Regions from separate parts of the Homo sapiens genome. Here region 1 is linked to region 2. Evidence: fine-mapped expression QTL. A gene starts in region 2. The other region holds a variant in brackets. All regions are shown on one strand. Distances are from middle to middle.

Region 1 (12,359 bases), 27 kb after region 2:
TGCCATTTTCTGCATCACTGTTTATAGTGGCAAAAAGGTGAAAAGAAGGGGAGCACCCATCAGCAGTGTTGGAAAGGAGCCAGCTCTCTAGAAATTGGCACGAGAGAAGGCCAGGATATATTGTTAGGTTTAAAAAATCTGCTACCCTACCTGAGGAGCTCTGTCTAATCTCCCTCTCTGATGCTTGCTTTGGCCAGTTGAATACGCTACACCTTTTGAAAATGTGAAGTTTTAGGTGGTGTAGTAGCCATAGGCCCTGTCTGTCCCTATTCTGTTAAACCTCCAGCTTCACCATTGACGTGATCTGTCTGGGCCCAGCAGGCATGGAGGCCATGACCCTGGTCTCTGGCATGAGCCCAGCATGATTACATGTTGGTAGGCAGAAAGGCATGGAGGAATGTGCTCTTGGTGGCTCAAAGTGAGGTGGGTGGAAGGGGGAGGGCGTACAAGGAAGGGTGGGTTGATGGCTTCTTATTTGTACACCCCTACTGGGTTTGGCTATAGCAATAAGGATATGTTTTCAAAGTAGGCTTGCTCAGAAAAGGCTTTGCGAGTCATGGAAGCTGTGGGTGGCCACAGCTGTGACAGTCCAGTGAGGAAGATGAACACACACTTCACGACAAATGTTTTGAGTGTTGTGGAGAAGTCTAGATGCTCTAAAAGCTGTAGGAGAAGGACCTACCTAGGGCATCACTGAGATTTCCCACAGGAAGTGACATTTAAATGAGAATGGAAGAGTAGGAAAGAGCCAGGAGTAGAGGAGGGAGGAGGGTTTTAGGGAGACAAACTAGCCCCCGTTTTTGCTGGTGGTGAAAGAAGCAGGCTGGGTGTGGCCAGGGATGTGCCTGAATGACCTTCTGGGACCTGATGTGGTATCCACAAATCTCTCCTTCCTTGGCTGAGCTGTACCTACAGCGGAGCCACTTCTAAGGGCTGGAAGTGGGAGAGGGGGGCAGAGGGTCTGCACTTCAGCACAGAACATGTTCCCCTGATGGGCTCTGTGATCCTCATTGCTCCCCAGTCCTGCAGGGTCGCATGTGTCTGTCAAGGCACCTTCTCTCCTTCCAGTCCCTTTGTACTATCCTTCAGCCTTTTGGGACAGCAGAACCAGGCAGCTTGGGTGCTCATGGGGTGGCTTGAGCATCACAGGCTCACTCTGACCTTTCTCCTTTCCATAGTAGGCAGGGGAAGTATTCATTCATTTTTATTGAGAACACAATAGACTATGCTGGGCACTGTGCTGGAAACTGGGGATGAAATAACAGTATTTGAACATGTATCCCATGCCAGGCACTGTGATCAACACTTATTGCACAGAGATGGCTTCAGTTAAGGAACTTAACACATATAGAGCACTTAGACGAGTGCTTGGCACCCCCAGTACTCCTGAGCACCAGCTGTTGCTATTAGTTAATCCTTACCACAGCCACATGAGATGGGTACAATCCTGTATGCCCACTTTACAGAAGGGGAAATAGAAGCCAAGAGGCACTTGCCACATAGGTGGTAGATGGCAGAGCAGGATTCAAACCCAGGACAGTTGGACTTCCAAGTCCTGTCCCTCTCTGAGAGTGAGTGAGACAGACATAGAGGGTGAATGGGATAGACATGACCCTCGCTTTACAGAGCTCTTATGGTTGAGCAGGGAGCAGCCGCATTGGCATGTCAGAGTGACAAGCGTTGCGGAGGGCTAAGCAGAGAGCCTGCAGAGGAAGGCCATGGACCCAGGCTGGAGGCCTGTTGGGTGGAGGGGAAGGAAACAGTATTCTAGGTAGAGTCCTCTGCGATCAAAGTCACTTCCTGCTCACCTAAGGGATACGTTTCATTCGCCTCTGGGCTTCAGCGAGGAGGTACTAGTTCAGTCGTCTGTGTACAAGCTATTAATGATTAATAATTTGAGTGCAGGGGTGTGGCTACTCATCCAAGCCAGTGTTCTGGGATCTTATCTCCCAGGCACTCCCATTGAGGCTGACCCCTCCTTTTCCAAGCAACCTGTGCCCTGAGGTCCTGTCACACTTCTTTACCATGTGCAAATAGCCTGGGTTATGAATCTGTGCTGCCCAGCCCGCCTCTCACTCCACTTCTGTTGAGTGAGTGAGTACATTCAGATGTCGTGTTGGACTGTTCCATTGCACAGTTAGAAATAAAGAAATGAAGCATCATTATAAACCTATGATTGAAAGTCCAAGCCACGTAAATTCTGCTACGATCCTGCCACCTGCCACCCCAACATACTGAATAGTGTTTATGTTTGTGTACTTTTCTTCAGTCCCTGTCCATTGGGCAGGTGTATGTATATATATAATTTTTTTTTTTTTTTTGAGATGGAGTCTCGCTCTGTTGCCTAGGCTGGAGTGCAGTGGCGCGATCTTGGCTCACTGCAAGCTCTGCCTCCCGGGTTCACGCCATTCTCCTGCCTCAGCCTCCTGAGTAGCCGGGACTACAAGCCGCCCGCCACCATGCCCAGCTAATTTTTTTGTATTTGTAGTAGAGGTGGGGTTTTGTCGTGTTAGCCAGGACGGTCTCGATCTCCTGACCTCGTGATCCGTCGAACAGGTATATTCTTATGCTGTTGTGTACAAAAGTGCATCTTGTCTCTTGCTTTCTCGGCATGGTTGTATGAAATTGAGTAGTTAGGTGATTGGCCACCAGGTGGTGCTGCAGCACCAGGCACCAGACCCGAACCTGGGAACCGCTGTCTTTAAATACCCAGCTCTGAGCCATCCTTGTCTGTGTAAGTTCATTTTCAGTTTTTTCCTCTAGGTGCTGTGCTGCTCATAAATGTTTTCCATACCTATTTCAAAAGAAACCAGAAAATATTGAAGTGTACAGAAATAGAAAGTAAAAGTGCCATACAATAATGCCATTAAGAGGCAGTGATATTAACAGTTTAGTGAATATCCTTCTATACTTCTATATGTGTGTTCACATGTGTTATAAAGATTTTAAAACATGTTCAAGTGTCATTTTCTCAGTGAGGACTTCTCATATACGCCCCCCCCCTTTAAAATTATGACTTCGTCTAGTTGTGGGGGGGGGTTGTTGGGGAAGGAGGGATGATTAATGGATTCAAAGATAGGAAGAAGATTGGATAAGATCTAGTATTTGATAGCACAACAGGGTGATTGTAGTCAATAATAATTTAATTGTACATTTAAAAATAACAAAAGGAGTATAACTGGATTGTTTGTAACACAAAGGATAAGTGCTTGAGGTGACAGATA[T/C]TCCATTTACCCTGATGTGATTATTACACATTGTATACCTGTATCAAAATATCCCATATACCCCATAAATATATGCACCTGCTGTGTACCTGCAAAAATTAAAAATAAGTGTAAAAAAAAGAGAAAATTATGACCTGTCTCCCACCCTGCCTACTTTTCTCTGCTTTACTTTTTTCTTTATCACTTACCATGAGCTGGCAAGCCTTGTCTTTTGCTGAATGATTTACTTAGTGTCTGTTTCCCCCACTAGAATATACTGGGGGTTTTGGGTTTTTTCTTCACTGCTCTATCCCTAGCATCTAGGACAGTGCTTGATATATACTAGCTTTTCAGGAAATAGTTATTGAATGAAAGCATGAAAGTGAGTGTGCCCTGAGTTTATGGACATTGCTCTCTGTCAGGAAGTATTGATCTCCCTCACCTTTTTATCTACCACTTAGTATCCCATTGAATGGATGTGTTCTAACTGTCTTTACTGTGGTTTTCAAGTGTTTTCCTGGCTTTTTTGTAGCCAGTGTTACAGTCAGTAGCTTTCCTGGAACATATACTCTCTGGTTATCTATTTGATGATTTCCTTGCTTTGTTTGAACTCTGGGCTTAGTGCTTTACAAAAAATAGCTCATATTAATCCTCACACCAACCCTCTAAGAAAGATGCTGCTCTTAGTTTCTCCTTTTCACCTGATGAGAAAGCTGAGGTTTAGAGAGAACAAACCCCCTGTTCAGGTCCACCCATCTTCCGAGTGTTGAGCCATCCTGTATTAAGGATGTTAATTCATCATCTGTCATGTGACATCACAAACACCCTTTTCCCAGTTTATTGACTGCCTTTCATTTTTTTCATGATGTCTTTTCCTTTATAGAAGTTTTAATTTTAATGTAGCTAAATCTACCAGTAGTTTTCTGGCTTTTGTATCACTCTTAGGACTTTTTTTTTTTACCTCCAAATTATTTTAAAAATTTGATCTGTGTTTTCTTTAGTATTTTTCCTTTTTTTGTTGTTAAGTCTTGAATCCATCAAAAGTTTATCCTTATATATGATATTGAGCAAGATTTTAAACAAATTCCTCTTTTTCCCAAGTGAATAGTAAATAGTTTCATCAACATTTATTGAAGAATCTATCTTCTCCACTGTTTGAAATGCCTCTTGGTTATATGCTACTCCTCACATATACTGGATCCTGTGTTCTGGACTGTGTCTTGTCCTGCAAATCTGTTTCTCTGTTTCTTTGCCATTTATCATTGACTGTGGCTTCCTGGCAGGATAAGACTCTTCTTACTGTAGTTCTTTTTTGAAAATGTCTTAGCTGTTTTTAATTATTCTTCCAGATGAAATTTTAAATCAATTTGTTGAGTTCCAAAATGAATCCCCTTAGGATTTGGAGTGAACTTACATTTTATTTATAGATTGATTGGGTGGAATTGATGGCTTTACAATACTGTCTCCTTATTCCAGGGAGTGAAATGTCTCTCCTTTGATTTAAGTCTTTTTTTTTGTCTTTTAGTAAGGTTTTATAATTTTCTTTAAATGATTTTTGTACATTTCTTTTAAAGTTTATTTCTGGATATTTTTCTCTTTTGTTAGTGGGCTCTTGGGCCATTACGCTTTCTAGCTGGCTATTGTTTGTACAGAGGAAATTGTTGATTTTATAGCTGGATAGATATCATTCATAGATTTCTCTCTAGTCCACTTCCATTTGCTTGAAATCTAGAAATTCTTAATAATTTATAGTTCATTGATGTCATCCTTTTCTGTATTTTAATGCTGCAACAGATTTTTTCCTTTTTTTCTTTTTTGAGATGGAGTCTTACTCACTCTGTTGCCCAGGCTAGAGTGCAGTGGCGCAATCTCAGCTCACTGCAACCTCCACCTCCTGGATTCAAGCGATTCTTCTGCCTCAGCCTCCTGAGTAGCTGGGATCACAGGCATGCACCACCACGCCCGGCTAATTTTTATATTTTTAGTAGAGACAGGGTTTTGTCATGTTGGCCAGGCTGGTTGTGAACTCCTGACCTCAAGTGATCTGCCCTCCTTGGCTTCCCAAAGTGCTGGGATTACAGGCGTGAACCACCGTGCCTGGCCTTATGTTTTATTTATTTGGTCCTTTCAGCAGGACCTGGAGAGTGGAAGGCAAATGGGTGGACTCCTCTCATTATCTTCATAGTCTATTAGTCGAGGTTGATGTGAAAGTGTCATCTGTCCCTGTGCCTTTCTGGCACCTCCAACCCACACCATCAACCCTGCAGTGCTCTCCGTGGAATGTGGGCTGACCCTGAAGAGCCTTAGAAACTGGGTGCAGGTTTTCCGTTTTCCTGTCACCTGGGGTGTGCCCTTTACTCCTGAAGTCTTTCTCCTACCGCTGCCTGGACTGCTTTCACTGCCCCTTTTCCAACCAGACCTTGCCCACCCTGCCTGTCTCTGTAGACAGCTTCCTTCTTGTTTTAAGGGAAGGACCAGGCTGTTCATTATGAAAATTAGGTCGTAGGGCCAGGACTCAATGCTGTTTGTCAACAAGGCCCAATAATGTAATGTGGGTATCCTGTTCTGCCAACCTAACCCTTGCCTCAAGGTTTCTGAGGTACCTCATCGCAGAAGGAACAGCAGCCAAGGAGAACTCAGAGACCCTCATTATAAGCCTGGCACCCTAACACAGGACCCTCTGGTCAAAGCTGGGTTGGAGCAGGTAATGGGCTCGCAGCCCATGGGGGCCTCCCACTTGCCTGAACTTGATCTGTGTCTGGGTCCCTTACCATCCGCCAGCCAGCAGCAGTGTATGGGACATGCAGGCCTGGTGGGCACCCTTAGGCATGCACGCAGGAGTCAGAGAGGGGCTGAGCTCAAGCAGAGGCCCTAGTTCACCACACATCTCACAGCAGCAGTGGAGAGAAGAGAAGGCCTTGAATAGGTGATGATCTTTTGGCACTTAGTGACACTAATGGATGTGGTCCTATCCTGACCTGGCTTGGTACCAGCCAGACCAGTAATGCCTCTGCCTTTGGCAGGATCTAAGAGGGAGGGAAAAGGAGGTCAAGACCCCCTGCTCCCTACACGCCTCCACAGTCCACCTTAGATGGTTTCTGTTTGGCCCACACGTAACAGGTGTAAAATGCCTGATTGTCAACACCCAGGGCTGCAGTCCTCCCATAATGGTTTTTCACAGGAAATGTTGAGACCCCTGTTTTTAGACCTATTCCTAAGGGAGACTATGGGGAGGGAAATTGGGTGGGGAGGGAGGGTGGGATAGGATATGAGAATATAGAATCCTTAATTTTTTTTTAACTTTTTATTTTGAGATTATTTTAGATTTATAGAAAGGCTGCAAAACAGTACAGAGCTTACATAACCACAGTACTATTATGAAATTAATAGGTACCACACTGTTTACTGAACTACAGACCTTTTTCAGATGTTACCAGTTTTCCCCACAGTGTCCCTTTTCTGTTTCAGGATCCAGTCTAGGGTCCCTCAGTGCATTCAGCCATTGAGTCTCATCAGTTTCCTCTGGTCTGTGATAGTTCCTTAGTCTGTCCAGAAGGTATCAGCTGAGCCTTGGTGGATGAAATTTAGAGTCTAGTTTTGGTGATTCTATTTGTCAAGCCTATAGAGTGAAAGAGTCTCATCTAGCCCTGCAGGTGTTGTTGTAGGCACCTGGCCTGGCTGGCACTCCCCGTGGACATGAGTCTTCCTGTCCACAGGAGGCAGCCCAGGAGGCTCCCCACTGCTGCCCTCCTCCAGGTGAGGTATGAGTGGGCCACTGTACTCCTTCCTCCAGTTGCAAGGGAAGCAGCTAACAGGGTCTGACACTTCTCTAAGACTGTCTTTGTCAGGTGTCCTCTCTTTCTCTTGCTTTTTTTTTGAGATGGAGTCTCACTCTGTCACCCAGGCTGGAGTGCGGTGGCACAATCTCGGCTCACTGCAACCTCCGCCTCCCTGGTTCAACCCATTCTCCTGCCTCAGCCTCCCGAGTAGCTGGGATTACAGGCACTCACCACTACACCCAGCTAATTTTTTGTATTTTTAGTAGAGACGGGGTTTCGCCATGTTAGCCAGGCAGATCTCGAACTCCTGACTTCGTGATTTGCCTGCCTCAGCCTCCCAAAGTGCTGGGATTAAAGGCATGAGCCACTTCGCTTGGCCTTCTCTTGCATTTTTAATATTTTGCCCTCTGCTAACTCTTTCAGTCTGAGGATGTGCTTAGAAGTCTTCCTCAGGCACCTCAAAACCCCAGCTTCAATCTGCTGCCCTCATCTCTTGCCTTCCCCTTTCTGCTGTACTTGGCTCTGGGAGAGTCAGGACCATCAGGTCCCATTGTGCATCGGGCCTTCCCTGACACTGCACACAGGGTGTTCTTGCCATTATATCCTCAGGCCTGTTCTCAGGTCTCATCCCAAGTGGTTCTGCAGTACCTTATACCATGGACTGAATTCTTTCTGCAGTTCCTGCTTTCTGCTTCTGTGTGATAAGGTCGTTCCCTGGGGCAGACATCGTCTTCTCTTATCAGTCAGGGTATTTCTTCAGCTTCCGTTTGGAGAAGGGGAAGATGCATTCTGTTTTTCTCCAGCTGGGTATGCTTTAGATATAGGAAAATGTACCTTTTTTAGTGTATTGTTATGCAAGTTATGACTTAGCTTTTGCAATCACTCTATTAAGAATAAACCATAGAGGGACGGGGCGCAGCAGGGAGACTGCGTAAGAGGCTTTCACGGTAGATGGGAGGTTTTGGTGGCTTGGATCAAGATGGAGGGATTGGAGGTGGTGAGACCTGGCCATATTCCACAGAGAGGAATTTTCTCTGTCCGTGATGGCCCAGGACAGAGACAGTACCCCTTCTAGTTCCAGACAATGTTGCCTGCTGATACTCAAAGCAAATGTTCCCTGGATCCTGATTAAGATTGAGGGTTTGGCCAGGCATGGAGGCTCATGCCTCACTCGGGAGGCCGAGATGGGCAGATCACCTGAGGTCAGGAGTTCGAGACCATCCTGGCCAATGTGGCGAAACCCCGTCTCTACTAAAAATACAAAAATTACCTGGGCGTGGTGGCACACACCTGTAATCCCAGCTACTTGGGAGGCTGAGGCAGGAGAATTGCTTGAACCTGGGAGACGGAGGTTGCAGTGAGCTGAGGTTGCGCCACTGCACTCCAGCCTGGGTGAGGGAGCAAGAATCTGTCTCAAAAAAAAAAAAAAAAAAAAAAAGATTGAGGGCTTTACAGAGTTAGGAAAAGGAAATGGGGGGTTGAGTTCCTGGCCTGGCTACTGTGCACTGTGATTCCGAACACACACAAGGGGAAGCTTCACTATTCAGGCTTCCAGAATAGCAGGGCACCTCTGATGCACCCAGGGCTTTTGTGGGTATCTGGTATGTCTGAGGTAGACCACCCTCATTTCTTCACTCTCCCTTTTACCCTCATTTCTTGATGTTCCCTTTAAGCCCACCCCCACAAATATCCCCTGGCCTCCCAGTTTCCTAAAATTTGCCTCCTTTCCCTATGGAAGAAATCAGGTCTTGTCAGCTGGTGGCTGCAGGGGAGGATTTTTTCCTCCTTCACCTGTCTTCTGCAGGCACCTTGTTTTGGAAGGGGAGAACCTTCGATTTCCAGAGTAGATTGTAGATGCTTATGTGGGAGATGGGGACGCTCTAGCCAGCCTTTCATAGAGGGTCTAAAAGAAAACTCTCCTGCCAACCAGAGAACCCTTTCCTGGTCTTCAGAGAAATGCATATTCCTCATTCACATTTGTTTCATTGCCTCCCCTTCAAATTGATTCTTGTGGTCTTAGGCTAAGAGAGCATTGTCTGTGCTGGAAGGTGAAGTGGTGGTGGAGGGTGTTACCAGAAACAATTGCTGTCATTTCTTGAATCCACGCTACCTGCCAGGCTCTGCACCAGCCACTTCTACATACATCATCTTATTAATCCTTTCAGCCTCCTGTGAAGTAGGTACAGGGGTAGGTACAGGATGAGCATCCCAACTCTGAAAATCTGAAATAAAAATGCTCCAAAATCTGAGACTCTTTGAGTGCTGACATGATGCTCAAAGGAAATGCTCATTGGAGCATTTTGGATTTTGGATTTGGGGATTTGGGATGCTCAGCTGGTAAGATAATGCACATATTCCAAAATCCAAAAAATCAGAAATCTGAAACACTTCTGGTCCCAAGCATTTCGAATAAGGGATGCGCAACCTGTAGCATGATTCTCCCCAGAGGAGGAAAGTGGATGTTGGCCAGGTCAAGCAACTGGCCAAGGGCACAAAGTAAGTGAAAAGTGAGTGTTCAGATCCTGGTTCTCTGTCCCCTAAGCCACAGGGAGGAGCCTGGCTTCTTTCACTTGCTCTGTAGCTGCCTTGTTTTGTGCTCCTATCAAGCCTGCACTGCAGCTTGTTACCCTGGTGGGGGTGGGGTTGAGCTACAGGTGACTTTAAAGCCTCCCCAAATCCAGGTGTGCTCTGAGCCTTGTCTATAGAATGAAGGGTGGGTGCTGTGCATGGCCCCTACTATTACTCAAATATATGTAGCTACTGCAGGGATTGTTAAACCAGAGTGTTGGTGAATTTATCATAGCTTTTTGTTACAGAAGGTTTTTTTCCTTAACAGATGACAAAAAGAGAACTACATTTTTTTTAGTGTTGTAAGGCGGGTCTCTAGAGTGTGTTTCCCTTTATATTTATATCCCTGTATATCCACACATATCAGAGTATCTGTGTGGGTGTGTGCATTAAGATGCTACCCAACACTGTGAACTGTGTTAACCCTGGGGACAGGGACTAGGTAGGGGCTTTGGGGAGAGCAGACTTGCCTTTTATATTTTATACCTTTTTATCCAGTTTACATAATTCTACTATGCATATGAATTACTTTTCTTTTAAAAATTGAGGCTGGGCGCAGTGGCTCATGCCTGTAATCCCAACACTTTGGGAGGCCGAGGTGGGCAGATCACTTGAGGCCTGGAGTTTAAGACCAGCCTGGCCAATATGGTGAAACTCTGTCTCTACTAAAAATACAAAAAATTAGCTGGGCGTGGTGGTGCATGCCTGTAGTCCCAGCTACTTGGGAGGCGGAGGCAGGAGAATCGCTCGCTTGAACCTGGGAGGCAGAGGTTGCAGTGAGCTGAGATTGCACCACTGCACTCCAGCCTGTGCAACAGAGTGAAACTCCATCTCAAAAAGAAAAAATAAAATAAAATAAAATTTCAGAAAGTCCTCATCCTTGAAAAGGTTAGGCATCCCTGGGCTGGACTATAAATTTCCTGAGGCCAAGGATGGGTTTTCTCCCCTTCTGCCTCCTCAGCTTCAGCATACAGAGCCTGGGACATGGGGGCGCTTGAGAATGCCTGTCACAGGATGGCTGCCTGTTTGTGCCGGCCCCCAATTCAGCTCCGTAAACATAGGCGCTTCCCTTCCCCAAGAAGACGCTTTTCCTGGCCCTTCTTTCCGTGCTTGCTCAATCTCCCAAGTTCTTTTTTTTTTTTATTATACTTTAAGTTTTAGGGTACATGTGCACAATGTGCAGGTTAGTTACATATGTATGCATGTGCCATGCTGGTGTGCTGCACCCATTAACTCGTCATTTAGCATTAGGTATATCTCCTAATGCTATCCCTCCCCCCTACCCCCACCCCACAACAGTCCCCAGAGTGTGATGTTCCCTTCCTGTGTCCATGTGTTCTCATTGTTCAATTCCCATCTGTGAGTGAGAACATGCGGTGTTTGGTTTTTTGTCCTTGCGATAGTTTACTGAGGATGATTTCCAGTTTCATCCATGTCCCTACAAAGGACATGAACTCATCATTTTTTATGACTGCATAGTATTCCATGGTGTATATGTGCCACATTTTCTTAATCCAGTCTATCATTGTTGGACATTTGGGTTGGTTCCAAGTCTTTGCTATTGTGAATAGTGCCGCAATAAACATAGGTGTGCATGTGTCTTTATAGCAGCATGATTTATAGTCCTTTGGGTATATACCCAGTAATGGGATGGCTGGGTCAAATGGTATTTCTAGTTCCAGATCCCTGAGGAATCGCCACACTGACTTCCACAATGGTTGAACTAGTTTATAGTCCCACCAACAGCGTCAAAGTGTTCCTGTTTCTCCACATCCTCTCCAGCACCTGTTGTTTCCTGACTTTTTAATGATTGCCATTCTAACTGGTGTGAGATGGTATCTCATTGTGGTTTTGATTTGCATTTCTCTGATGACCAGTGATGATGAGCATTTTTTCATTTGTCTTTTGGCTGCATAAATGTCTTCTTTTGAGAAGTGTCTGTTCATATCCTTTGCCCACTTTTTGATGGGGTTGTTTGTTTTTTTCGTGTAAATTTGTCTGAGTTCATTGTAGATTCTGGATATTAGCCCTTTGTCAGATGAGTAGGTTGTGAAAATTTTCTCCCATTTTGTAGGTTGCCTGTTCACTCTGATGGTAGTTTCTTTTGCTGTGCAGAAGCTCTTTAGTTTAATTAGATCCCATTTGTCAATTTTGGCTTTTGTTGCCATTGCTTTTGGTGTTTTAGACATGAAGTCCTTGCCCATGCCTGTGTCCTGAATGGTAATGCCTAGGTTTTCTTCTAGGGTTTTTATGGTTTTATGTCTAATGTTTAAGCCTTTAATCCATCTTGAATTAATTTTTGTATAAGGTGTAAGGAAGGGATCCAGTTTCAGCTTTCTACATATGGCTAGCCAGTTTTCCCAGCACCATTTATTAAATAGGGAATCCTTTCCCCATTGCTTGTTTTTCTCAGGTTTGTCAAAGATCAGATAGTTGTAGATACACGGCGTTATTTTTGAGGGCTCTGTTCTGTTCCATTGATCTATATCTCTGTTTTGGTACCAGTACCATGCTGTTTTGGTTACTGTAGCCTTGTAGTATAGTTTGAAGTCAGGTAGTGTGATGCCTCCAGCTTTGTTCTTTTGGCTTAGGATTCACTTGGCGATGTGGGCTCTTTTTTGGTTCCATATGAACTTTAAAGTAGTTTTTTCCAATTCTGTGAAGAAAGTCATTGGTAGCTTGATGGGGATGGCATTGAATCTATAAATCACCTTGGGCAGTATGGCCATTTTCACGATATTGATTCTTCCTACCCATGAGCATGGAATGTTCTTCCATTTGTTTGTATCCTCTTTTATTTCATTGAGCA
Region 2 (11,198 bases):
TTTATCTATTCATCACTTGATAGACATTTGGGTTATTCACATTTTTTGATATTGTGAATGATGCTGCCGTGAACACCTGTCTACAAGTTTTTGTGCAGACATGTTGTGTCCATTTCTTCTTGGGTGGTAAGTAGGAGTGGAGTGATTGAGTCATATGCTAACTCTATGTTTTCTAAAGTGGTTGTACCATTTTATATTTCCACCAGCAGTGTATAAGGGTTCCATTCTCTCTCTCTCTTTTTTTTTTTTTTTTTGAGAGGGAGTTTCACTCTTGTCCTCCAGACTGGAGTGCAATGGCGCCATCTCAGCTCACTGCAACCTCCACTTCCCAGGTTCGAGTGATTTTCTTGCCTCAGCTGGGATTATAGCCACTTGCCACCACACCCAGCTAATTTTTTTGTATTTTTAGTAGAGATGGGGTTTCACCATGTTGGCCAGGCTGGTCTTGAACTCCTGACCGCAGGTGATCCACCCACCTTGGGAGACAGGCGTGAGCCACCACGCCCAGCCAAGGGTTCTATTCTCTTCACCTTCTCATCAACACTTGTTATTGTCTATCTTATTTGTTGTAGCCATCCTAATGGGTGTGAAGTGGTATCTCATTGTGGTTTTGATTTGCATTTTCCTAATGGCTAATGATATTGAGCACTTTTTCATGTGCTTATTGACCACTGTGTATCTTCTTTGGAGAAATGTCTATTCAGATCCTTCTCTCTCTCTCTCTTTCTCAGACTGCACTTGGCTTTATTGCTTTAAGAAACCTATTATTTCTCGCTTATCACCATCTAAACTTTTCTGTCTTCTTTAACGTTGAACTCCCTTCTTCCTTGCTTCATTTTACTCCCATAGCACTTTTCTCTATCTAGCCTACTACTGTAAATATTGATTTTAATAGCTGCCTTACCCCACTAGAATGTCAACTCCACGAGGACAAGAATTTTTGTCTCTTTTATTCACTGCTGTTTTCTCAGCATTTACAGTAGCACTTGGCGCATAGCAGAGAACCATTAGATATTTGTAGAAAGAATGAATACATCCTTCTGGAAGCATCAAGAATCAATATTAAATGACCTTTCCTCATTTTAAAATTGGGTTTATAATAACTTCTAATATATCACAAAAGAATCTGTGTTCATTGAAAAAACTTAGAAAGTATGCATAAGCATAATAAAAGTATAGATGCCATTTAGCAAGCGTACATTGCACACACTTCTGTGCTTGCCCAAAGTCACACAGGTAAATATAATAGTAGCCAATGTTTATTGAGGTCCTGTTAGGTGCCAGGCACTCTTCCATGTATCATCTCATTAATTCCTGCCAACAGCCTGTCTAAAGAGGTTGCTACTTTTATCATTCTCATCTTTCAATAAAGAAACCGAGGCAGGTTGGGCGCGGTGGCTCAAGCCTGTAATCCCAGCACTTTGGGAGGCCAAGGTAGGCAGATCACCTGAGGTCAGGAGTTCGCGACCAACCTGGCTAACATGGTGAAAACCCATCTCTACTAAAATACAAAAATTAGCTGAGCATGGTGTGTCTGGCGTCTGTAATCCCAGCTACTTGGGAGGCTGAGGCAGGAGAATTGCTTGAACCTGGGAGACGGAGGTTGCAGTGAGCCAAGATCGTGCCACTGCACTCCAGCCTGGGCAACAGAGCAAGACTCCGTCTCAAAAAAAAAAAAAAAAAAAAAGAAAGAAACGGAGGCACATAGATATGCTAAGTAACTTGCTCACATGTACACAGCTTGCTGGTGGCAGAGCCAGGGCAGAACCATTGCACTACACTGTCTCTTGTTCTCTCTCTCTCTTCTTTTTTTTTTTTGGGACGAAGTCTCGCTCTGTCGCCCAGGCTGGAGTGCAGTGGTGCGATCTCAGCTCACTGCAAGCACCGCCTCCCAAGTTCACGCCGTTCTCCTGCCTCAGCCTCCCGAGTAGCTGGGACTACAGGCGTCCGCACCACGCCCGGCTAATTTTTTGTATTTTTAGTAGAGACAGGTTTTCACCATGTTAGCCAGGATGGTCTCTCTCTCTTTTTTGAGACAGGGTATCGCTCTGTCATCCAGGCTGGAGTGCAGTGGCGCCATCACTTGAGGCTCACTGCAGCCTTGACCTCCCGGGCTCAAGTGATACTCCCATCTCACTCTCCTGAGTAGCTGGGACTACAGTCTGCGCCACCACGCCTCGCTAATTTTTGTATTGTTATTAGAGACAGGGTCTGGCCATGTTGCCCAGGCTGGTCTCACACTTCTGAACTCAAGCAATCCTCCCGCTTTGGCTTCCCAAAGTGCTGGGATTACAGGCATGAGCCAACTCGCCAGGCTCTTGTTCTCTTTATGCAAAATAATTAAGCACCTTCTTCGATGATTACCGTTTTCTTAATACAAAATAGCAGAAACTTCTCCCAGAGGTCTTTTAAGACACAGGTGGTTTAACTTCTACTGACTCTATTTATATTCTTTTTTGTTTGTTTCTTTTTTCCTTTCATAAGCTTTGGGAAGCATAATAACCAATCATTCCATATTCATTCATATTACTGCAAAATTACTTTGAAGATTGTCAGAATGATGTTCTATTTGTCCAAGAATCTTTCGGAGTAGGGCAGGTCATAGTACCTCCTGTCTGTGGGAGGCAGAACGGAGTTTTGCTGTGGTTCCAGATTTCCAGGGATTCACAGACCTGGCTTCAATTGTCTTTGCAATTTATTATCCCTGCGACTCTAGCTAAATGACTTAACCTCTGTGCCCACCTCACCGTGCCTGGCACAGAGTAAAGATGTGGGAGCAGAGAGACAGGATCCGGGCTCATTCCCCAGCTTTGCTCCTGTGTGGTCTTGGGCAAGTCCCTTCACCTCGTTGGGCCTAACTCTGCCCAGCTGTAAAATGGATGAGACCGCCCCCCCCCCCGCCCCGCCAGGAACTCCGAGGTTTCTTCTGGCTCTGACGTTCTGGGCTCTGTGCCTACCTCCCAGCTGTGAAGAATGGGCACTAAGGCGATGTCTCGCTCACAAAACCATTTTTGTTGAAAACGATAAATCCCAGGTAGGGATTTACGGGGGATATCGGGTGAGGCCTGGACGGCCGTGTGGGGAATAAGATGCGCGGCTATTTCTAGGCAGGGGATGGGCGTGGCGGGCGGCGGGCCGGGTGTGCTGGCAGCGCAGCATCCCTGCGGGCGGGGAGGGCGTCTGCAGATGAGCTCGGAGGCCGAGGCCCGGGAGGACCGCGGATGCAGCGGCTGCGCACTGGTACGACCAGCCGGCCGATTTGCGTGTCTCCGCCCCTACAACGAGCTGGTTGGGGGGCTGTTCTGGTGCCGCGCGCCGATTGGATGAGAGGCCCGCCGCTCAGGCCCTGGAGCGGACGGTTCCTACTGCGGCTGGGCACCGGCTCCGCTCCCGCGTCTGCCCGCGCTCCAGCTGCGCCTGGCCCGGCCCCGGCCCGGCTCGGCGTGGCCCCGGCCTCCAAGCGAAGGCGCCGCTGCCGCTGGGCCGCTCCCAGGGCCATGAGGAAGCGGCGGCAGCCACTGCGGCCCGCGTCAAGGTGACCGGCCGGGACTGCGGCGGCGGGGAGAGCGGCGGTGAGAGGCGCGGCCGACGGGGCGGGGCGGGGCGGGGCGGGCCCTGAGGCCGGGCCTGAGGGAGCTGCAGGTGTGGGGGGCGGGACCCCGAGGGCCGCCGAAGCCGGGGAGGGGCCTCGGTGCGGGAGGCGGGGCCGGGGCCGTGCCTGCGGGTGCCCGGCGCCGGGGCCTGGCCGGGGTCCGGGGGTTCTGGGGTCCGGGGCCAGGGGCGCGCTGGTCCCCGGGAGCGTGAAGGACGGCGGGGAAGAGGCGCGGGCGCGGGGGGCGGGGCCGGGGGGGCAGTTGGGCGGGGCGCCGCGGCTGCAGGTGCGGGGGGCGGGGCCGGCGGGGCTGCCGTGGGCGGGGCTGTGGGGTGCGGCCCGCGCTGGACCCAAGGAAAGCACAGGTGCGGGGGGCGGGGCCCGGGGACCTGCAGCGGTGGGGGGCGGGGCCCGGGTGGCTGCGGTACGGAAGCAGGGCCCCAGGTGAGGAGCAGGCGAGGGTGAGTGGTCGCCCGAGAAGGAAAGGCCGCCCTCTCCGCTGCCCAGGGGTGCTTGGGTGGGAGCGGGGGCTTTGGGCTCCCTGAGGATTCTGGGGGCATCCGGGGCTGCCGCTAGAAGGGCCGTCCGGGCCTGCCTGTGCCTCTGCTGACTCGGGCTTGGAGCTCAGCTGCCCTGGTTACTGGCCGGTTGCCTCCCCTATGCTACGCCGCGCCCTAAGTGGGGCGCGCTGTTTTTCGCACCTCAGGGGCTTTCCTGTTGCTATTGAAGGGGCTTGCCAGGATGCGGGGGGCGGGGGGTTGGTTGTCATTGGATGATCGGTTGTTGAAAAATGTGTGTGCTTGAAGAGTAGTATGAGGCTTGGGAGGGGTCCTGGCTTGCTGGCCACTGGTACCAGAAGCTGCTGTAGATCTCAGCAGTGCGTCTCAAAAAGACTGAAATGGCAGCCTGTTAAGTGGGGAGAGCAGGGATGAGAATTCAGAAGCTTTTGACTATGCTACCTGGGAGAGTTTTTCACCTGTTTCCTCCGTTGCAAAATGAGCATGTTAGTACCTGCCTGTGTGCCTCCCAGGGGCCTGGTGAGGATAGGATGAAACAGTGCCTACTGAGCAAATCGCTGGATAAAGTTATGAGTTTCCTTTTTCTTGTGCCGATGGGCAGGTTGGATTCAGGGACTGGAGAGTCTAAAGAAGAGAGGGTTTGTTTCTAGTTAAGAGGTGAGACTAGACCACTGTCTTTTCGCAGTTTGGGATGAGGTTTTGTTGGGAGTTCCCAAAAGACTCAGCCGTGTCTTGGATCGTGACTGCTTCTCTCTGCGAGGCCTCTGAGGGAGCTGCTGCAACGCAGGGAGCAGTGGCAAGTGGAAGCAGCAGAACATTTGTTTGCTGACCTTTAGACCCCAACCCCGGTGAGGACTCTGAGCTGGAACATAAAGCTCAGGCCTGAGGCTATGGAAGTCCCTCTGCCCCCATCCAAGTACAGACCCCGATTTTACCACATTCCAAGAGGGTCGGGCGCGGTGGCTCACGCTTGTAATCCCAGCACTTTGGGAGGCCAAGGCGGGTGGATCATTTGAGGTCAGGAGTCCGAGACCAGCCTGGCCAACATGGTGAAACCCCCTCTCTACTAAAAAATACAAAAGTCAGCCGGGCATGGTGGCGGGCACCTGTAATCTCAGCTACTCAGGAGGCTGAGGCCGAGAATTGCTTGAACGTGGGAGGCGGAGGTTGCAGTGAGCCGAGATCGTGCCACTGCACTCCACCCTGGGCGATGGAGTGAGACTTTTCCATCTCAAAACACACAAAAATCCCCAAAAGAAGACCCCCAAAAGAAGGCAATGCCTGACTCCACTGTGTACCCACAGGGGCGGGGAGAAGGAAGCAGGATGACAGGGCTTTTTCTGAATTTCAGAAGAGTGTTGTATACCCATATATGTGACCTTTCAAAGCCCAGTGCCTCTGCTCACTGGTAGTTGACCAGTCCAAACTGTAATGCCTCCTACCTTCGTTGCATGGACAGAAGTGAAGGTAGGTGGAGCCTTCTCTACTAACCTGAATTTTTTTTTTTTCACTGTAGAAGCTGTGGGACTTTAGGGGCCAGGAACCATGGTGCTGGCCTCCCTCATTACCACTAGTTGGTGCAGTGGTGACCCAGTAGCATTGAGGGGATTAGGCCCTTACTGGTGCCTGTGCTTGTGTGGCAGGTCCCAGAGGATCTAGAAGCAGCATGTGAGAGTTCTCCCACTCTGTCTTGGCAGAAGCGGTGTTAATGGCTCTCAGAGACTGCTGCTGTCTGAGTGACCATCATGCTCTTTGGGTTAGAAGGAAAGCTCAAACTTGGTGGCAAAGAAGACCTAGAACATGTGTTGAATAATGAGGGGATTAGCAACATTCAGGGTGGAGAGAAATACTTCATTAATGAAAAATACTGCATGTGAGGCTCTGTGATATGGCCCACCTCTTGAAATGGATTTTCCTTTTCAGTATGGAGGGTAAGAGCTCAGACTTGGAAGTCAGTCAGGTCTGTTTGAAACTGCAGGCTGCCACCTCCTGCTGAGTGAACCAGCACTACTTCCTTAGCTTCACAGAGCTTTGGTTTCTTTATTTGTAAAGCAAGGATAACCATGCCCACCTTGTGAGGTTGTTATGAAGAATAAATGAGACGGGAGGGGAGAAGGCACCTGATCCACCTGGTTAGGGTCCTGTTCTGTCTCTCACTGCCTGCCCATCTTTCAACACAAGCTACTCAGAACAGCATGTAACATGCAAGGAGAGCAGGACAGGGAATTCTGAGGCCTCTATTTTTTATGTAACCTTGAACAAATCCCTTCCTGTCTCCAGACCTTGGGTTTCTTAGCTGAGTGAGGAGGGTGTTAGACTATGTGATCACCAAGAGTCCTTCGAGCTCTAGCCTTCTGGTTAGCATGCCGTCATCTTTTCTTCAAAGGCAGGAGGGAGGAAACTAATGACCTCTTGTTTAGTTCTTCTTTTAAAAATATCTGTCTAGCACCTTGCCTGGCCATAGTAGGTGCTCACCGAATGCTTGTTGAAAGAACAGATGAAGGACTTTGACTGGAAAGAAGGTGTGGCAAGTTGTCCCTGCTACTTTTATGCATATGGTTTCTGTACCCTTAACATACATTTTATTTATTGCACAAAAATATTGTAACATTAGTAAAATTAGTGAACTTCAACATAAAAGACAAAAGTTGTTGCATGGTTTCATTTCATCACACATTAAATTCATTCAATTTTTGTTCGTAAACATACATAATTCTTCATGGTTGCAATCGTACGTATGTAAGCATTTGGGAAAGGCCCAGTAATAAATGGTTTCTTTGAATATCGTTTAAAACTTTTTTTAAGAGACAGGGTCTCCCTCTGTTAGCCAGATTGGAGTGCAGTGGCACAGTCACGGCTCACTGCAGCCTTGACCTCCCAGGCTCAAATGATCCTCCCACCGTAGCCTCCCAAGTACTGCGCCACAACACCTGGCTAATTTTTAAATTTTTTGTAGAGATGGGAGTCTCACTATGTTGCCCAGGCTGGTCTCGAACTCCTGGGCTCAAGTGATCCCCGCATCGGCCTCCCAAAGTGCTGAGATTACAGGCATGAGCCACCACGTCTAGCAAGTATAGTTTTTATTTTATATTTTGAGGAAGTAAAAAAAAAATCACACATGGATTTTTTTTTTTTTTTTGAGACAGAGTTTCACTCTTGTTGCCCAGGCTGGAGTGCAATGGCGCGATCTTGGCTCACAGCAACCTCCGCCTCCCGGGTTCAAGCCATTCTCCTGCCTCAGCCTCCAGAGTAGCTGGGATTACAGGCATGCCCCACCACGCCTGGCTAATTTTGTATTTTTAGTAGAGGGGGTTTCTCCATGTTGGTCAGGCTGGTCTTGAACTGCAGACCTCAGGTGATCCGCCTGCCTCGGCCTCCCAAAGTGCTGGGATTATAGGCGTGAGCCACCGCACCGGGCCCACACATGGATTTTTTTTAAGGCTAGTGAGGGAATAAGTTGTAAGTGTCTTTCTTGCCTCAAGTTGACAGTTCCTAGTCCTTTTCCCTAGAGGCAGCCACTGTTACCAGTTTCTTGTTTATTATATATTCTTTCTCTTACACAAAGAATAGCATTTTATACATACTCATTGGTGCTTCATGTATCCACTTGATTTACTTTGGACATTGTTCTAGCATTGGAAAATGTGTCAGTTAGTATATACAGTTCCTTCTTAATAAATGTTTTTGACTGATATAAGCATAATTTTGTACCTCCACCCCCCACACCCCAATGATGTTTACTCAGTATTGGTTAGCAGTCATTGTTTAGAAGACTAACAAGAGACATCCTTTGTCCTAGGAAAAAAAGTGGCCTTGGTCCCAGTGAACAGTAGATTAAAGGGCAATCCATGTATCTGGATGCAAGGCGGAGTACAGAAAGAGAAAGGAAAAGAGATTTGTTCACTGGTAATTGAGAACTGATTTTCCATTCAGGCCTTGATTCAAAGTCCAGCTCTGTCACTTACTGGCTGTGTGACTTGGAACAATTTATCTAATCTTTTTGCATCTTAGTTTCCATATCTGTAAAATAGATAATGATAATAGGATCTGTCTTTGGGGGTTTTTGTGCGGAGGAAGGGAGATCATGCTATGCAAAGTACATACAGCAATAGCAGGTCATAGTAGGTGCTTAAGAAGGATGAGCTGCTATGTTATTAATAATCTGAAATAGATTCTATTCTTTGTGAGCAGATATTTACTGGACAATTAAGGGTGAGCCATGGAGAATACCTAAAGTCCTTGCCTTTGAGGTGCTCACATGCTGTGTGTGGAGATCGGCGCACAAGCCATTGATTACCAAACAGTATAGTGGGCCAGGTCGTGGGAGGCGAGCATTGTGTGAGATCACAGAGGCAGGGAACAGTGACTTCTCCCTGGGGTGGTTTGGAATGCCTCCTCAGCTCAAATTTTCCCTCCTTTGTGAAACCTACTTAATTTTTCCAGGCACCCTCCTATTTGTACTCCCTTGACTTTCATTCTGTGTGTACCTGGATCAGAGCACACATCATGTTATTGCATGTGTGACTTTTTGCCTGTGTCTCTACTCTGCACAGGGAAAGTCTCCTGCTTTCTTTGCTGCTGGGTCTCCAGAGCTTGACACAGGGTAGGCTCTTGTTGAATAGTGTGATGGACCTGTGCTTAGACAAATCATACTACTAAGTGGTGGCAAATTCTTATTTATACGTCACCAGGTCTCTGGTGAAACCCATTCTCTGGACTCTACTTCTTCACTCCCCAAATATTTGAGTGCTGACTCTGAGACAGGCATGTGCTGTGCTATATGCTAGGTGTAGGCTTTGGGTATGGCTGATGATACTTGTCCTAAAAAATCTTAGGGATGGGGAAGAAGGAAATATTTGTTGCAGATGCTGAAAGTCAAGATGAGGAAGCAGAAAAATGGACAAGTCTGGAATGAGCTGCTCATGCTTGCTGAAACTCACCTCTCCTTTCCACAGAAGTATGGCTGCTCTCCCTTGCCTTGGGCTGGAGTTGTGGAGGTGCAGGCCAAAGGAGCTGAGTAGGTGGCTCATAGATTTTAACTCGGGGGAAGAGTTGGTTGGATTGGCTTCTGTGAGGAGTGTTTCTGGGCCTCCTTTCGTGGCAGAGAATACACTTGACTTTCTTCAGGTGGGCATTCATTAACCTGCCTTGCTGGGCTCTTGCTTTGGGCTCAACCTTGTAATGGATGCTGGACACATGCAGATGAAGCTTTGTCCCTGCCCTTTGGGATCTCACAGTCAGTGGAGAAGTCACCCACAAACAGAAGGTGACTGAAGGCGATTGGCCATAACAGAGAACCTCTCATGAAGTGGCCAAGCAGTTTCAGGCTCGGGGCCAGGCAGACCCGGGTTCAAATCCTGCCTCTGTCACAGACAACCTGTGTGACCATGGGCAGGTGTCTTCCCAGCTCTGAGTCTTGGTTTACTGATTTGGTAAAGTGGGGATAGCAGTTTTACCTAACTTAGGGCTGTTGAAGATTTCAGTGAAATAATGCAGTGCAGTGTTTAGCACAGTGCCTGCTGGGAAGCTAATGCTTACAGAGTGCTCACTATTGTAATTATACGTGATGCTGTGGGAGAACCAAGAAGCACCTCTTGAGCTGTTTCTCAGGATCCTAGTGATAGTGTCGTGGTCATGATGAAAGTTAGGTATTGAATGTGAAGGTCAAGTCGTCTGAGAGATCAACTCTGAAGTCACCAAGCGCTCAAGGAGTCCTCAGGACCTTCCTCACTAGCCCTGTGGCTGATATTATGGCTCCAGGGCTATAGGCTTGTCTGTAAGTGTTTCCTCCCCACTTTCTGCGTGAGCTCTTCTGAAAGATACATTTCACCTGTCATCATTGTGAACACCTTTTCTTTGTCTGAGTACCTGCACTGATCATTCCATGACTTCTCCCCAAGGAGAGGCATGAGTTGTACTTGTCTCACCTGTGCTTGCTGAGGAGCGCAGAGACCTGAAGACCCAGAACAGCAAATAATTCCTTGGTTTTTCTGTAGAGCTTTCAAGTCTGTCGTGTTCTTCTTTGCAGGAGATTTATCTCCTGAGCATCAGAGAGGCAGATAGGGCAGTGCTTAAAACACGGACTCTGGAGTTGGGACACAAACAGATGTGGGTTTGTGTCCTGACACCATCACTCACAAGCCATGTGGCTTTGAGCAAATGACTATACCTCTGTTTCCTCATCGATACAAGAGGTGAGATAGTACGCGCCTTTGTGTGGTTCGTACAGGGTTTCAGGGAGACGCTACAAAATAGGGCTTAGCAGAGGGCTTGCACATTGTGAGCACCCAGGAAGTGGGAGCTAGAATAGTGTCCTCTTTTCACCCAGGGTAGTAAGATTTTTAGGATGCTTTTCTCAGGGTATTAATGTATTGTCTGTGGAAGTTATATGAGTTACTGCACAAGCAATGTGTTAAAACACACATGTACTTGGTGATGGGGGGCTGGGAAGCATGTCCAGGGTGGCAGGCAGAACTCTTCCTGCGCTGGGATTGCAGAGGCAAGCCTCAGCTCCCACAAAGACATAGGGTACTGGTGAGGGAGAGGACGGAGCCATTCTGGGCGCGTTTGTCTCAGGCCCATTTAGGAACTGGGGGCTGCTTCTCAAGTTCTTTCTGTTTAATCATTCCATTATTCCGTGTAAATGATTGGTCTTTAATATAAACTGATAATACAACATGATACTTTCCCTCTTCAGGATTTAAATATTTATTTTTTAAGGTTAAGTCAATTTTTGAGTAAGCAGAAGAAAATTTGAATCTTTGGCCTTGACATCATAGGTTTCTTTTAAAATCATCTGAGATGAAAGGAAGAATAGGGAATGTATTTAAGTCCATGTTTATTGGATACAGTAATTATCACCCACTGTTGTATAAGCCTGATAACTAGGGCAAGGGAAGTTTGTGCTTTTGGCATATTTCTGAATAATTAAATATTTATGGAAAACAAGTTAATAGATTCAAGACAATTTGCTGTGTCTTTCTCTGGCATAAAGTTCGTTATGTGGAATTACAGAGAGGATTAGTCCTCTGTGCATCTGTTTATTTTTTCCTTCTAGGCACCATATCTCTAACACTTTCAGTCCACTA

What was found. PIP is the estimated chance that this variant, and not a neighbour inherited with it, causes the effect.
Region 1: its variant is fine-mapped to the expression of RALGPS1 in whole blood (INTERVAL, PIP above 0.99).

Annotation. Positions count from the first base shown.
Region 1 is chr9:126,938,137-126,950,495 of GRCh38, forward strand. The region is part of intron 1 of RALGPS1 (Ral GEF with PH domain and SH3 binding motif 1); the gene reads left to right. Among named protein-coding and RNA genes, the nearest start is that of RALGPS1, 30 kb to the left of the region's middle. The variant T/C (reference allele first, on the strand shown) is at 3,225.
Region 2 is chr9:126,911,441-126,922,638 of GRCh38, forward strand. RALGPS1 (Ral GEF with PH domain and SH3 binding motif 1) reads left to right here and starts at 3,342. Exons shown (of 19, transcript NM_014636.3): 1 at 3,342-3,535. RefSeq lists a silencer at 3,314-3,743 and enhancers at 4,234-4,303, 5,597-5,646.